2 separate regions of the Homo sapiens genome follow, and region 2 is linked to region 1. Evidence: fine-mapped expression QTL. Tissue or cell type: whole blood. Region 1 holds a variant in brackets; the other region holds the start of a gene. All regions are shown on one strand. Distances are from middle to middle.

Region 1 (7,989 bases):
TGGGTTTACAACTCCTTGGCCTCCCCAGTGTTGGGGGTGGAACCCAGGACCCTAGACATTATTTAAAAGCACATTTGGGTATATACTTGGCTTTTGAAAAAGCACTTAAAGGCCCACGCACAGGCCACTCCCGAGACAGTGGAATGCCCCGAGAGAACGTGCAAAGCCCCAGCTGTTGCTGTGTGGTTATTAGGGAGAGAGGCGGCTCCTCCCACTGAGGCGCTTTCTCCAATCCACTCGCTTCAGAAACAGCAGAACAGCCGCTTTGTTTTTCATTATGGAGTTGTTGTTTTTTCTCCCCAAATTTACAGTGTTCTTTCAGTCATGAAGTTAAAATCATGTTTACTCAGCCATTTTCTGAATTGAACAGCTCACACATGTGAGGCATTTAACTTTTTTGGGAGGAGTATATAAAAGTTTTATCATTTCTCTCATCCAAAACTACTTTCTTAATTAAAAAACAACAAGGCCGGGCGCGGTGGCTCATGCCTGTAATTCCAGCACTTTGGGAGGCCGAGGCGGGTGGATCATGAGATCAGGAGATTGAGATCATCCTGGCTAACATAGTGAAACCCCATCTCTACTAAAAGTACAAAAAATTAGCCGGGTGTGGTGGCGGGCGCCTGTGGTCCCAGCTACTCGGGAGGCTGAGGCAGGAGAATGGCATGAATCCGGGAGGTGGAGCTTGCAGTGAGCCGAGATCACGCCACTGCACTCCAGCCTGGGCGACAGAGCGAGACTCTGTCTCAAAAAAAAAACAAAAACCCATAATGTATATATACACAGACAGGATAAAACCAAGGATGTTCTCCTCTCTGCCCCTAAGCTGTCCAAGCCAAGAAAACCTTTTCCCCAGGGAGGGACCAGCGCCCGTGGCAAGGTGAGGAGGCCACTAGCCTCTTCCCACCTGCCAGAACTGGTATTAACAGACTTCCCCTCGGCTCCCAGGAACTTCCCAGAAAAGAAGGAAAAAGGGATTTCTCCTGGGGGCCATGCTTCAGTAACCACAAAATAGCTAAGGGGTAGCTAAACTCCTAGTTGAAGCACCTTAAAAGTGTTCAACCCTTTATTGGCCCTTTGAGTGGGTCCCCTAAAATCCAGGACCCCCAGGCTGTGCTGTCCAGGGGGCACCTGTGCCCAGGCAGAGAAGGGCTGAGGAACGGGGCACAGCTGCCCAAAGAAGGTGCTCCCATCCCTTCGATGTACAGGGTTTTTCTTTAAAATTCATGCAAATTTGGCGTTGTTTTAATATAACAATGATTATACTTATTTTCAGGTTAAGGAATTTCTCTCCCTTCCCTTTGCCCCCATCTAAAGGCAATTCCCTAGGGAGCAGGTCTCTGTCTCTCAGAGGGGGCAAGACCAGTACAAAGAGGTAGGCTATACCTCCTCCCCTGGCCTAGCACCCCAGAAGGAAAGGAGGTGCTGCCTGGCTGGGGTAGCTCCCTGTGGGCACACTCCCTCCAGACCATGCTGGCTCTACAGCCACCCGCACCTGAGGGGCCCTTGACCCTTCTCCCAGCCATGTGCAGGGCAAGCTTTGAGTGTGGTCCAGGCCAGATCTCTCAGGAAGGCAAAGCCTGGTGGAAACTTGCCCTGTGAATTTCTAATTTCCCCAGGAGAGAAGAAGAAAATTCAATGGATGGGGGCTGTCAGGGGCTCTCCAGGAACTGATTTTGTTCTCTCCTGGGGAAATGAGGAATTCACAAACTGGGCCTCCAACAGCCCCGTGACGAGGCAGGTGTTACTGTCCCATCCCACACATGGGAAACTGAGGCTCAGAAGAGTTATTTAACTGACACAGCAAAGCTGTTATGGGCTGGATTTAAGCCAGGGATTGATCCAAAATCTACACGCCACCCCCCAACATACTCTGTGGTCAACTAGGAGAAACAGACGGGGAAGTTCTCTGTTGAAGAAGAGACTGAAGCTCTAGCTGGTTCTCCCAGCAAACACAACCATTCTGAGATGTCAAGACGGTGACCTGTCGTGAGCCTTGTTATCAATCCCCACCTATTGTTCCTGTGCAAGGGGCTGTGCTTTGAGTCCTTTTCTTTCCAACTTTAAAAACCAAAGCTAGATGTAAAGGTTTTCTAAGGCCAGGAGTGCCTGCCAGCCACTTAATGTTTCTGTTAAGATCATCTGCCCAGTGCTCAGGACGTCCAGGCTGGCTGACAGGCCATTCATTCATTCACTCATTCAGGAGGTACTGAGCATCTAGGACGGGCCAGGCATCCAAAGACAGAAAAAGCAACAGTCCTTGTTCGTAAAAAGCTGCAGCCTGGTGGGGTGGCAGAGATGCTGAGTGCTGCTGATGAGAGGACACTCTAGAGTGGGGACAATGAGTCCCGCATCAGGACCAGGTGTCAAGTGTCCTGCAGGAGAGGGCGACCCAGGCAAGCAGTAGAGCCTCTGGGGATACCCAGGAGCAGGCAGGCCAGGTGGCGGGTGGCTGGGGAGGGGAGGGGGACCTGAGCAGAGGGGACGGTGGGCTGTTGGGGGAACAGAAAGCATGCCAGCAGGCAGGGCGAGGCAGGGCCCGGGCCTCCAAGGGCCTTCCATGGTATCTTATGGAGTCAGATTTCGGCTTCTGTGTGATGAGAGCCGTTCGAGGGCACTACGCCTGGGAGGTGCATGGCAAGATCTGGGTTTTAAAATATTGTGCAGTGAATCCCCAGGGAAGACTGCGTGGCAGTTTTAGGAAAGCTGAGCCTGTGTGTCCCCAAGGACCGGCAATTCCACTCCCAGGCAGATGCAGGCAAAAATGTGAATGCAGGTTCACCAAAATGGCAAGAATGGGAATGTGCTGGTCAGCACCAGGTGTCATATCCCCAAAGCAGACACAACTGAAATGTCCACCAACAGTCAAATGGGCCAGTCAACTGTGGTATACCTGGGATACTCTATGGCAACAAGAATGAATAGGGGCAGCAACACGATGGCATTCACCATGAGCAGCACCACCTGAGAGCGGCCAGACAAGGGCACACACTGCAGGACAAGTTTACCTGAAGGTAAAGAAGTAGCAGGCCGGGCATGGTGGCTCACGCCTGTAATCCTGGCACTTTGGGAGGCTTAGCCAGCTGGATCATGAGGTCAGGAGTTCGGGACCAGCCTGGCCAATAATGTGAAAGCTCATCTCTACTAAAAATACAAAAATTAGCTAGGCGTGGTGGTGTGCACCTGTAGTCCCAGCTACTTGGGAAGTTGAGGCAGAAGAATCGCTTGCACCAGTGAAGCAGAGGTTGCAGTGAGCCAAGATCGCGCCACTGCACTCCAGCGGGGGTGACGAAGCGAGACTCCATCT[C/CA]AAAAAAAAAAAAAAAAAGGTAGTAACAGCCAAAATGAACCTCTGTGCCAGGGGCCAGGTACACAGTGTGTCCACAGGAATCTTGCACTCTTCTAACGTATGGTATACTTTCATAAAATGTACACTAAGCCTTAAAAACAAAGATTAACAGTAGAGGACAGATTTTTCAAGGGCCAGAGCTACACAAAGGAAACACAATGAACAAAGATACATAATTAATTACTACATATAGTTAGTACTACACATAATTAAGTGGAATTCAGAGGTGATGGAGATCAAAGGCTTCATGGACATTGCCTGGCCTGAACTGGACACAGAAACCAGATATTTCCCAGGTCTTGAGATGGACAGTTGCCCACCCTTCCTTTATGTTCCCCCAGGGGATGAAAGCCAAGGTACATTTCTCAGGGGTTCAGAAAGTTCCAAGTCATCATTTAGTCCTCTCAGATTGAAAAAACTCCTATTGCAGAAAAGTTAAATGATACCAACTAGAAGCAGACAGATCCAGAATGTGAGGCATTTTAGGGGAGAAATGATTATAAGACAGTTTATTGCATTAGAAAAAGTGAGGGTGATTTCCCTTACATTAACGATTTCAGGTACAGCCATGGGTAAATGTACAGACCTTGTTTGGATTCTGATTTGAAGATATGACCTATACACAATGACATTTTTGAGACACTTAGGAAAATCTTACAGGTAAATCTAGGTAATAAGAGTCTACCAAGGAATCACGATTAATATTTTAAGGTATGGTAATGGCATTGTGGTCCTGTAAGAAAATATCCTTATTTTTTCAGAGACGCATATGGAAGTATCTAGCATTTGAAAATATCACGTCTGGAACATACTTTAAAATATGTCAGCATATCAAAGAAAAGAGGGAATTGATAAGGCATGTGTGCAAAGGCTCGATAGTTATTGAAACTGGGTGATGGATATATGAGAATCATTGTACTGCTCTATTACTTTTATAGGTAAACGAGAGAGAGAGAAAAGAAATCATCAGTATAAGAAATCAAGGAGGGAACATCACTATAAAACAAACGTTAAAAGGATAATAAGGGAACATAATGAACAACATTATACCAATAAATTCTACAACTTAACTGAAATGGAAAAATTCCTCAAAAGGTCTCAAGTATCAAAGCTCACTCAAGAAGAAGTAGATAACCTGCAAAGCCCTGTATCTACTCACAGTTAAAAACCCTTGCCCAGAGGCAGATGGCTTCATTGGTGAAATCTATTGAACACTTAAGGAAGAAATAATACCAATGTTTTCCAATAAATACCAAACAATTTTCCAGAAAATCAAAGAGGGAGGAGCACTTCTCAACTCCTTTTATGAAGCCAGTAGTACCTGATACCAAATCAAAGACATTGGTAGAAAAGAAAATTACAGCCAGGCATGGTAACTCATGCCTGTAATCCCAGCACTTTGGGAGGCCAAAGCAGGTGGACTGCTGGAGTCCAGGAGTTTCAGACCAGCCTGGGCAACACAGCAAAACCCTGTCTGTACAAAAAATACAAAAAATTAGGTGGGCATGGTGGTGCATGCCTGTAGTCAGTCTCAGCTACTTGGGAGGCTGAGGTGGTAGGATCACCTGAGCCCAGGAGGTCGAGGCTGCAGTGAGCTGTGATTGTGCCATTGTACTCCAGCCTGCGTGACAGAGTGAGACCCCATCTCAGGTTTTTTTTAAAAAGAAAAAAATCTGGGTATGGTGGCTCACACCTGTAATCCTAGCACTTTGGGAGACAGAGGCAGGAGGATCATCTGCCAGCAGTTAAAGACCAGCCCGGGCAAGAGAGAGAGACGCTGTCTCAAAAAATAAAAAAAGAAAAAGAAAAGAAAAAATTACAGGCCACTGTCCATCATAAACATAAATGTAAGAGTCTTGAACAAATACTAACAAAATTCAACAATATGTTAAAAGGATAATACATCATTACTAATGTTTCATCCTAGGAATGCAACGTAGTTTAATATTTAAAAATCAGTCAATGAATTGCCATGCCATAGAAACAGATTAAAATGGAAAAACCACATGACGATCTCAATAAATACAGGGTAAGCACTTGATAAAATTCAGCAAATTTGAGATAAAAATTCCTAGCAAACTGGAAATCAAAGAGGACATCCTCGATCTACTAAAAAGGTTAAGTCTCTGAAAAACCTATGGCTAACATCCTTCTCTTTGTAGTGAATAATCAAGTACTTTCCCTTGAGACTGGATGCAAGGCAAGGACGTCCACTCTTCCTACTTCTAAATCCTCGAGGTTCTAGCCAGGCTAATAAAGGAAGAAAAAGAAATAAAAGGCATACACTTCAGAAAGAAAGAAAACTATCTTTTTTGCAGTTAACATAACTGTCAGTACAGAAAATCCTAAGAAAATCTACCAAAAGGTTACTAGAACTAATGAGGTTAGCAAGGTTTTAGGATATAAGGCCAATATACAAAAATCAATTGTATTTGTATATTCTAACAGGGGAAAACTGGAACTTGAAATTTAAAAATCCATTATCATTTATAGTATCACCAAAAAATCTGAAATACTTAGGGTCCAATTGTTTGAACAAAATATGTGCAAGACCTGTGCACTGAAAATTCCAAACACTGATGAGAGAATTTTAGTATCTAAATAAATGGAGAGATATACCATGTTTTGATGGATAATTTTCACAGTAAAAATGTTAATTCTCCCCAAATTGAGGTAGACATTCAACACAATCTTAATGAAAATCCCAGGGGTTTTTTTTTTGTAGAAATTGATGAGCTAATTCTAAAATTTATATAAAAGGTAACTTAAAGAGTGTAACTGGATTGTTTATAACTCAAAGGATAAATGCTTGAGGGCATGGATAACCCATTCTCCATGATGTGCGTATTTCATATTGCATGCTTGTATCAAAGCATCTCATGTAACCCATAAATATACACATCTAATATGTACCCACAAAAATTAAAAAATAAAACTTATATAAACATTTGAAGGATCTAGAATAGCCAAAACAACACTGAAAAAGCTGAACAAAGTTTCTCTTTTTTTTGAGGTGGAGTCTTGCTCTGTTGCCCAGGCTGGAGTGCAGTGATGCAATCTTGGCTCACTGCAATCTTGGCTCACTGCAACCTCCACCTCCCAGGTTCAAGCGATTCTCATGCCTCAGCCTCCCAAGCAGCTGGGACTACAAGCATACACCACCACGCCTGGTAATGTTTTTCTATTTTTAGTAGAGATGGGGTTTTGCCATGTTGGCCAGACTGGTCTCAAACTCCTAGCCTTAAGTGATCTGCCAGACTTGGCCTCCTAAAGTGCTGGGATTACAGGCTTTAGCCACCATGCCCAGCCCGAAGTTTCTATTTCAATACTTAACTACAAAGTTACAATAAACAAGACAGTGTGGAATTAGAGAAAAGATATGCATTAAGGTTGATGGAACATTCTTTTTGAGATAACGTGATATGGAATTAGTGGTGCGGGCTGCACAACTTTGTGAATATACTAAGACCCACTTACTTGTATACTTTAAAGTGGTGACTTTTATGTTGTGTGAATTACTTCAATTAAAAAACAAAAACTAGTTAAAAAAATCAATGGTACAGAACAGAGTCCAGAAGTAGACCCCTACTTGTAGGGTCAACTGTTTTCAATAAAGATGCCAAAGTAATTCAATGGGGAATCTATAGACTTTTAAACAATGGTGCTGGAACAACTGCATATCCATATGCAAAAAAAATAGATTTTTAAAAACCTCTTATCTCACTCCCTATACACTAATTAACTCAAAATGTATCCAAATATAAGAGTTAAACTTTCTAGAAATCTTTTGATAGGACACAAAAAGCACAAATAATAAAAGAAAACATGAATAAGTTTTGACTTCAGAATTTAAAACACCTACTCTCAAAAGACTCGGGTGAGTAAATGAAAAGGCAAATGTAGACAGAGAAAATATCTACAAAATAGCTATCTGATAAAGGACTGTTATCCAGAATATACAAAGAACTCTCACACCTCAAGAAGAAGAAAAACAATCCAATTAAAAGTAGGCAAAACAAAGGCTGGGCACGGTGGCTCATACCTGTAATCCCAGCACTTTGGGAGGCCGAGGCGGGCGGATCACCTGTCGGGAGTTTGAGACCAGCCTGACCAACATGGAGAAACCCAGTCTCTACTAGAAATACAAAATTAGCCGGATATGGTGGCACATGCCTGTAATCCCAGCTACTCTCGAGGCTGAGGCAGGAGAATCACTTGAACCCAGGAGGCGGAGGTTGCAGTGAGCTGAGATTGTGCCACTGCGCTCCAGCCTGGGCAAGAGGAACGAAAAACTCCATCTCAAAAAAAAAAAAAAAAAAAGTGGGCAAAACAGCCAGGTGCTGCAGTCCTCTTTGGGAGGCTGAGGCAGGAGGACTGCTTGAGCCCAGGAGTTAGAGACCAGCCTGGGAAACACAGCAAGACTACCTCTCCAAAAAAACCAAAACCAAACAAACAAAATGTGCAAAAGATTTAAACTGACACTTTACCAAAGACCTATGAATCTCATGTAAGCACATGAACAGATGGATGCTCACTATCATTAGTTATTAGGGAAATGCAAATAAAAACCACAAAGAGATACCATTAGAGTGGCTAACATTGAAGACTATTAATACCAAGTGTTGGCAAGATGTAGAGTAACT
Region 2 (7,989 bases), 33 kb after region 1:
TGTCAGCATACTTCTTGTGGTGCTCTAGAATTTGAGCAATGAACACTCTAGAACAGAGGCTAACAGTTCTCACCTGTAAGCTTGTTTCTTCAAGGAAGTGTTGCCTTAGAATCCAGATCCACAGTAAGCCTGAGAGTCTTAAAAACTTTTGACTTCAGAATCCTTCCACATGATTCAAGAAAAAGTTAAGTCCACTTCACAGGGTGACCAGAAAGTCCATGGGGACCAAATATCCAGTTTTCAGTCCTGTTGGGAGGTGAGATAAGAGGAAGTCAACTGAAGAAAGTTAAACATTTAAGCAATAAGGGGCTTACAAACAAACATAAATGACCTAACTACCATTAGAAGGCAATCTCAGACCCTGGGCACATACCCAGGGAAGGAATATACTTATATTCAGTGCAAAAATGCAGTCCACATGCTTGAGGGGCCAAAGAATGCCTTGAATAGAGGAACCTTCCCAGTGACCTAGAGAAAGGGTTCAAAGTTCTCAAGACCTCCTTGACAAAATGTGGTACATATACACAATGAAGTACTATTCAGCCATTAAAAAGGAGATCCTGTCATTTGCAACAATATGGTGCAGCCGGAGGTCGTTATGTGACGTGAAATAACCCAGACACAGAAAGACAAACTTTGCATGTTCTTACTCATTTGTGGGAGCCAAAAATTAAAACAATTGAACTGACTGAGATAGAGATCAGAATGATGGTTACCAGAGGCTAGGAAGGGTAGTAGGGGGGTTGGGGGAAAGCAGAGATGGTTAATGGGTACAAAAACACAGAAAGCAGGAATAAGATCTAGTATTTGATAGCACAACAGGGTGACTATAGTCAGTAATAATGTAACTATACATTTAAAAATAACTAAGAGTATCGTTAGATTGTAACACAAAAGATAAATGCTTGAGGTGATGGATACCCCATTTACCCTGATGTGATTATTACACATTGTATCTCATATACCTTGTAATGAGGGTTTATTATTACACATTGTATCTCATATACACCTATTACTAGGTACCCACAAAAATTAACTATCAAAAAAGAACTATTTGAGAAATAACAGCTCTATATACTCTCCTACAAATAAGAAAAGTAAAAAGAAAAAGAAAAAATGTCTTCTCAGCCATCAGGCAAAGCCAATTTTAGTAATGCTGAGCTCCTATTTTGGTAATGTTGAGCTTCTTTGATTCTTTGATGAGGGTTTCCAAGTCTTTAAAGTCAGATAAATTTAGATTTAAAAAAAGTCAAACCACTTCTGAAGTAGACTTGCCAAAAATGGCAAGCATGAACCTAATTAAGCCTCTAGATCTAACTTCTAGTTTACAGGAAATATAGGGGATAGAGAAGCAAGCCAAACCACACTCCACGAAAAGCAGCCCAACAGATCCAGAGTGTGAGGCACCCTACAGGCAATCAACCAAGTAACATCGACAGTCATTGGTATTGAGGAAACCCGCCAAGGCTGCTCTAGACTTGGGTCGGCAAACCACAGCCTGCGGGTAAGTCCAGCCTGTGGGTGGATTTTAAAACACAAAAGCTTTGGAAATTAAGTATTATTGGAACACAGCCATGCTTATCCATTTACTATCACCCCTGGCTACTTCTGCATGACGATGGCAGAGCTGAGCAGTTGTGGCAGAGACCATAGGGCCTGCAAAGCCTGAAAGAGCTGGTATCTGGCTCTTCACAGAGACATCTGCCACCCCTGCCCTAGATTGAAAGGGGCAACAGCTGAGCACGGTGGCTCACGGCTGTAATCGCAGCACTTTGGGAGGCAGAGGCAGGTGGATCACTTGAGTTCAGGAGCTCCAGACCAGTGTGGCCAACATGGTGAAACCCCGTCTCTACTAAAAATACAAAAATTAGTTGGGTGTGGTGGCATGCGCCTGTAGTCCCAGCTACTTGGGAGGCTGAGGCATGAGAATCACTTGAACCCAGGAGGCGGAGGTTGCAGTGAGCCAAGATTGTGCCACTGCACTCCAGCCTGGGTGACAAGAGTGAGTGAGACTCCGTCTCAGGAAGGAAAAAAAAAAAAAAGACCAGCCTGGGCAATACCTGTCTCCACCAAAAAAAAAAAAAAAAAAAAAAAAAAAAAAAAATAGCTGGGCATTGTGGCACATGCCTGTAATCCCAACTACTCAGGAGGCTGAGGTGGGAGGATGGCTTGAATCCAGGAGTTCGAGGTTACAGTGAGCCATGATCTCAGCAGAGCTGGTTCCTGTCTCAAAAAATAAAATAAAATAAAAAGGTAACAGTCAACAAATTCTTGTCTGGATGTGGATTCAAACAAACCAACAGTAAAAATAAGTTCATTTTTGAGGTGATCAGGGAAATCTGATCATGGACTAGGTTTTAGAAAATGTTAAGGAATTATTGTCAATTTCATCAGGAGGTGATAATTGTATTATGGTTACACAAGCAAATGCCCTTTCTCTGGAGAAACATACTGAACAATTTAGGGGTGAAGTGTTATGTTGTCTGGAATAAACTGCTTTAAACTGCTTCAGCCACAACCAAAAAAAGAAAAAAAAAGATGAAGTGGATATGGCCAAACAAGACTTGTGAAGTCCATTTGATGGATATATGGAAATTCATTCTACTTTGCTGGGCTTTTATGTTTGCTTAAAATTTTCCCAATAAGCAAAACAAACAAACAAACAAAATCAGAACCTTGATCAAAATGTAGAGGTTATCACTGGAGAGCCTTGCTTTCCAGGCACCCCCACCCCCGACCCCACCCCTCCTCTCGCGGAGTCCAGCCTCAGCACGCCAGTTGTTCACCTTTGTCTGAACACACTGTCATTTTCAGCTTCTTATTTTTGCTCATGGTGTTGGCCACCCTTTCCATTCCTGTGCCTATAAAAATCTGTTCTCTGCTTAAGGTCTCCCCAACTGTGACCTTCTCCTGGCCCTCCAGTGAGCACTCACCTCTCAGTTCCAACAGCACACTGCCTCTGGTTTCATTCTTCGCTACGTTCTAGCTATTTACCAGGTCTGTTACCTCATGATGCCATACAATCCCAGAGACTTCCAATAGCTAAGTCTTTTCTGTAAATCCATTTAAGGGGGTATCACGATGCCTTTTACGGAGCAAGCTCCGCAGTCCAGGGGCAGGTCCTCACGGCCTAAACACGGCTGCCTTATCCTGAGTAGTTTTACTGACAATAGAGCTTCAACTGAAGAATGAATTCCTGTTCAGCAGGACACTGGGCAGTCATGTTTAATTGAGAACTCTTAAAATTCCTAATAGAGTTTGCCTAGATGGAGGATGTTCTAAAGAGGGCTGCGAATATTTCGTGTTTCTGTCCTCTTACTGTCACCTTTCCTTGGGTCCTGTCCCCTCTTCAAGCATGGCTGCACTACACTTCCACACCAGCCTGCTGGTGTCCTAATCACTGGTAAGGGCCCTGGCTCGAGGTGGATACAAAGCCTCCCAATGACTTCACTTCAAGAATGGACACAGATTGGAAATCTTACTAGTAAAGAGAGAAATGAACAGATCATTTTAAAATCCCTCTTCTATTCTGCTTACTGCTACCTACTATCCAGATCACCACAAACAACCACCCTCTCCTAACTAGTAGTAGTTAGGGCCTGGTTAGTAAAATCAACTAGCCCAAAGTATTTCCGTACAAAAATCCACCAATTAGAAATTAATTTAACTTTGCAAACTCAGCTTTTACAATACGAATCTCTGCTAGAACACAGTGGTCTGCTTATTCAGGGAAGTCTGGCTTCTTCTGGGAATAGTTTCAGGAAAACAAGGCATTTTGGGAAAATACGGGCAAACTGCAGGTGCTCTTCATCTGAGCATTTCAATAAATTGAATGAGGCCAGGGAAAAGTCTTCACTTACAGGTAAATGTACATAAGGACACCTACGTGTGTGTAAGACCTACACTTTAAATAGGTCACCTTTAGTTTTTCATTAATCATTTCTCCTGGGACATTTAGCAAAACGAATAACTTGCTTTTAAAAAAGGCCACAAATCCCGGGTGCAGTGGCTCATGCCTGTAATCCCAACATTTTGGGAGGCCAAGGCGGGCGGATCACGGGGTCAGGAGTTCGAGACCAGCCTGGCCAACATGGTGAAACCCTGTCTCTACTAAAAACACAAAAATAAGCTGGGCGTGATAGCAGGCGCCTGTAATCCCAGCTACCCGGGAGACTGAGGCAGGAGAATCGCTTGAACCCGGAAGGCAGAGGTTGCAGTGAGCCGAGATCGCGCCACTGCACTCCAGCCTGGGCAACAGGGCAAGACTTCATCCCAAACAATAAAAAGGGCCAGAAATCGACTGCATTTTCTTATCACTTAAATATTAAATCAACTAAGCGTGGAGTTAAGAAGCTGTGTTCAAAAAACACTTAAGTCTGCTTTTGAGCTTGTGGCGTTGTCCTTGGCCCACAGAGTAAAACAGCAATGATAACCATAATTAATAATCAAGGCAGTAAATTTCTTCAAAATTTCAGAAGTTTCACTAATGGCTCCAAAGAAACCTTAGATCAGAAATTCACAAGTGCCAGGAGACGTTTTTAGATTTCTTTTGCAGCTTCTAGTCTCCTTACAAACAGGAAATCTTTAAAATGAAAAACAATTTCTGAGAAGTGTTAGCCCGGTTCAGCTGAGGTCCTCTGAAAGCCAGCGTGTGGGCTGTCACGCTTCCTTTACAGGGAAGCAGCGCCCGTGCGTGAGGCGGTTCCTGGCTTTTACCGCCCTCTGCCCGTTCTGGCAATCGCGCCCGTGGCCCCCGCGCGGGGCAATGGAGGACGCGTTTCGGGGTCCACCGTCCCCTCCCTCCGGCTGGCCTCGCCGGCCGGCGGCGCCCCAGGCCTCCTCCCTCACCCGCGGGGACGCCGAGTGCTGCGGCCTCGACCCGGACGCCGCGCAGGGAGCGACGCCCCAGGTTCCCGCGGGCGCCAGGACACCCCGCCTGGGGGGCGGAGCAGGCGCAGCCCCGACCCCCGCCCGGGCTCAGCGCCTCACCTGCCGGCAGCCGGGGCTGTCGGGGAGGGCAGGGCCAGGGCGGAAATGCAGGGCCGGGCCCGCGCCTCTGCTCCCAGGCCGCCCCCGGCGGCGCCCCCTGCAGGCGGAACGCGAGGCCCGCCAGCCCCTGCGGCGCCCTCGCACACACGTGGCCGCTCGCACAACTGGCCGCCTAACAGCCAGACCCACCCACGCCGATGCCCGCCGGAGACGCCCCGCCGCAGACACAGCGCAACCAGCTTCACACACCTGGGGACGCCCCACAGAAGTCACATCCACCCTAACACACCTGGGCACTCAGGCTCAAGCCCCGACTGCATGGTGGACCCTGACACACCTGGGCCACACCCCACAAAACAGACTCACAGACGACTCCACAAGCTTGGGGACACGCCACATCAAATGGACACACATGCACACACAAATGAACCCAAGCGCAGACACACTTGGGGATGCCAACCATGTGTGTATCTATCACATCACACACCACCAAGGCCCCCCAGCTGGGCATGCACACAGCCCTGATACCGAGTCCAGACCGCCATCTAGTCACACTGCCCACTTACTTACCAATACTCTTAAAATGAAACTGTGGCCGAAGGAGACAATGGAAGGATGACATCACCTCTTCCCTAGCTCCAGGACTAATTTAAGCCCCAGAAATTATAGGACTGAGAACCAAAATCGAAAGAGAACATTTTCCCTAGAGACAATGGGTTAAAGCAATGCCACTTGGGGGCCAGGTGGTAGGAATGGTACAGCTATGGAGAGAGTGACACTTCTGTCTCTCCGAAAGACACAAATCTGTGTTTATCAGATTAGCAATAATCCCCCTTAATCATTTCCTGCCCTTTCTACTTTCTCATGGATGTGGACTGATTGAAACCTTTATATAAACTGGTTTTTATCCAAACGTTTCCAACAATGCAGATGTAATTGTATTTTGAACAGATGTACAATTCCAAAAGAAATCTAAACCATCAGGTACATAAGTCGTTGGTTTTCACAGTTTTTTCTTGTCTTGGACACTTCATAATTAAATTGAAATGTATTAAAAAACCTTGTCTAGCTCATATTAATATTTTTTTTTTTTTTTTTTTTTTTTTTGAGACGGAGTCTCGCTCTGTCGCCTAGGCTGGAGTGCAGTGGCGGGATCTGGTTCACTGCAAGCTCCGCCTCCCGGGTTCACGCCATTCTCCTGCCTCAGCCTCCCAAGTAGCTGGGACTACAGGCGCCCGCCACTACGCCCGGCTAATTTTTTGTATGTTTAGTAGAGACGGGGTTTCACCATTTTAGCCAGGATGGTCTCGATCTCCTGACCTCGTGATCCGCCTGCCTCGGCCTCCCAAAGTGCTGGGATTACAGGCGTGAGCCACCGCGCCCGGCCTCATATTAATATTTTTAAAGACAGCAGTAATTCTTAACTTTTTGAAGCGAAAGAATGATTCCACTTTCATCTCTTTTTTGAGGGGGGAAAATCATGTCAGCAAAGGAAAGTGAGACAAATAGATAAATAATTCTTCTGATAAAGGAAAATTAAAGATGACGCAGACTAGACGAATTTTTTGTTTGTTTTGAGATGGGTTCTCACTCTGTCACCTAGGTTGGAGTACAGTAGCATGTTATTGGCTCATTGCAACCCCTGTTTCCCAGGCTCGAGTGATCCTCCCACCTCAGCCTTCTGAGTAGCTGGGACCTCAGGCACCCACCATCACGCCCGGCTAGTTTCTTGTATTTTTTGGTAGAGACAGGATTTCACCATGTTGCCCAGGGTGGTCTTGAACTCCTGAGCTCAGGCGATCCACCCGCCTTGGCCTCCCAAAGCGATGGGATTACAGGTATGAGCCACAGTGCCTAGCCAAGACAAGTGTTAAGTTGCATCCCAGATAAGGCTGGGGAAGCCCAATCTAACATAGAATAGGCTCTGTGGGATGAAGCCTTCAGTTTAACTTCTTGGAAAACAACTCACAGTTTGAAGAGCAGTTTTTGAAATGTGGTCCCAGTCCAGCAGCACTGGCAGCACCTGGGTATTTAGAAATGCACAATCTCCAGCCACACTGGAGGTGTCCTGACTCTGGGGGTCAACTCAGTGTCAGCAAGTCTGGGGGTGGGGCCCAGAGATGGACATTCTAATGAGTGATGCCAGTTCAAGTTTGAAAACCATCGCCTTTTGAGGATGTACCTCGGTGCTTCTCAAACTTTAACGTGCACGTCAGTCAACCCAGGGTCTTGTTTTAAAATGTAGATTCTGGTTCAGCTAGCCAGGAGTAGGGTCTAAGATTCTGCAGGTGGACAGAGGGTGCTAAGTGAAGATTTTCTTGTGTATAGACACACTCCAGGGTGCTGTCACTGTGAAGACAGCTCCACAGCAAAGCTTGGGTCTCATAGAGATAAAACTCACAAAGTGCCTCAAGGAAATAGACTGGTCAATCTAAGCAGGTCCCGGGCTTGTCAGTTTAGGGTTGGTCAGTTATTCAGGATCCCTTGGCAAGCCAACTGCTCTGGTAGCTTTTAGGAACTGGGTCGACTCACCAAGTCTGTTTGGTTGTGTCCAAATGGTACAATTGAGTCATTCACTGCAAAGGGTTCAGCTGCTCATTCTGGCCCCTTTGCTCTGCCTTTTTACAAACTCTCACATCCTCTAGGCTTAGGGTCATGCAGTCAGCAAATCACTATGCACCTGTATTAGTCTGTTCTTGCATTGCTATAAAGAGCTACCTGAGACTTGGTAATTTATAAAGAAAAGAGGTTTGACTCACAGTTCCACAGGCTGTACAGGAAGCATGGCTGGGGAAGCCTCAGGAAACTTACGATTATGGCAGAAGGTGAAGAGGAAAGAGTCACATCTTAAATTCTTAAACAGCCAGAGAAGGAGAAAGAGAGAGCAAAGGAGGAGGTGCCACAGAGTTTTAAACAGCCAGATCTTGTGAGATCTCACTCACTATCACGAGAACAGCCAGGGGGAAATCTGCCCCCATGATTCAATCACTTCCCACCAGG

Evidence for each region. PIP is the estimated chance that this variant, and not a neighbour inherited with it, causes the effect.
Region 2: GGACT starts here. The variant in region 1 is the best candidate, but not a certain one, in a credible set for the expression of GGACT in whole blood (INTERVAL, PIP 0.74).

Annotation. Positions count from the first base shown.
Region 1 is chr13:100,550,536-100,558,524 of GRCh38, forward strand. All of the region lies in intron 2 of GGACT (gamma-glutamylamine cyclotransferase), which reads right to left. Among named protein-coding and RNA genes, the nearest start is that of GGACT, 34 kb to the right of the region's middle. The variant C/CA (reference allele first, on the strand shown) is at 3,308.
Region 2 is chr13:100,583,752-100,591,740 of GRCh38, forward strand. GGACT (gamma-glutamylamine cyclotransferase) reads right to left here and starts at 5,038. Exons shown (of 3, transcript NM_001195087.2): 1 at 4,990-5,038; 2 at 74-246. RefSeq lists a silencer at 4,671-5,190.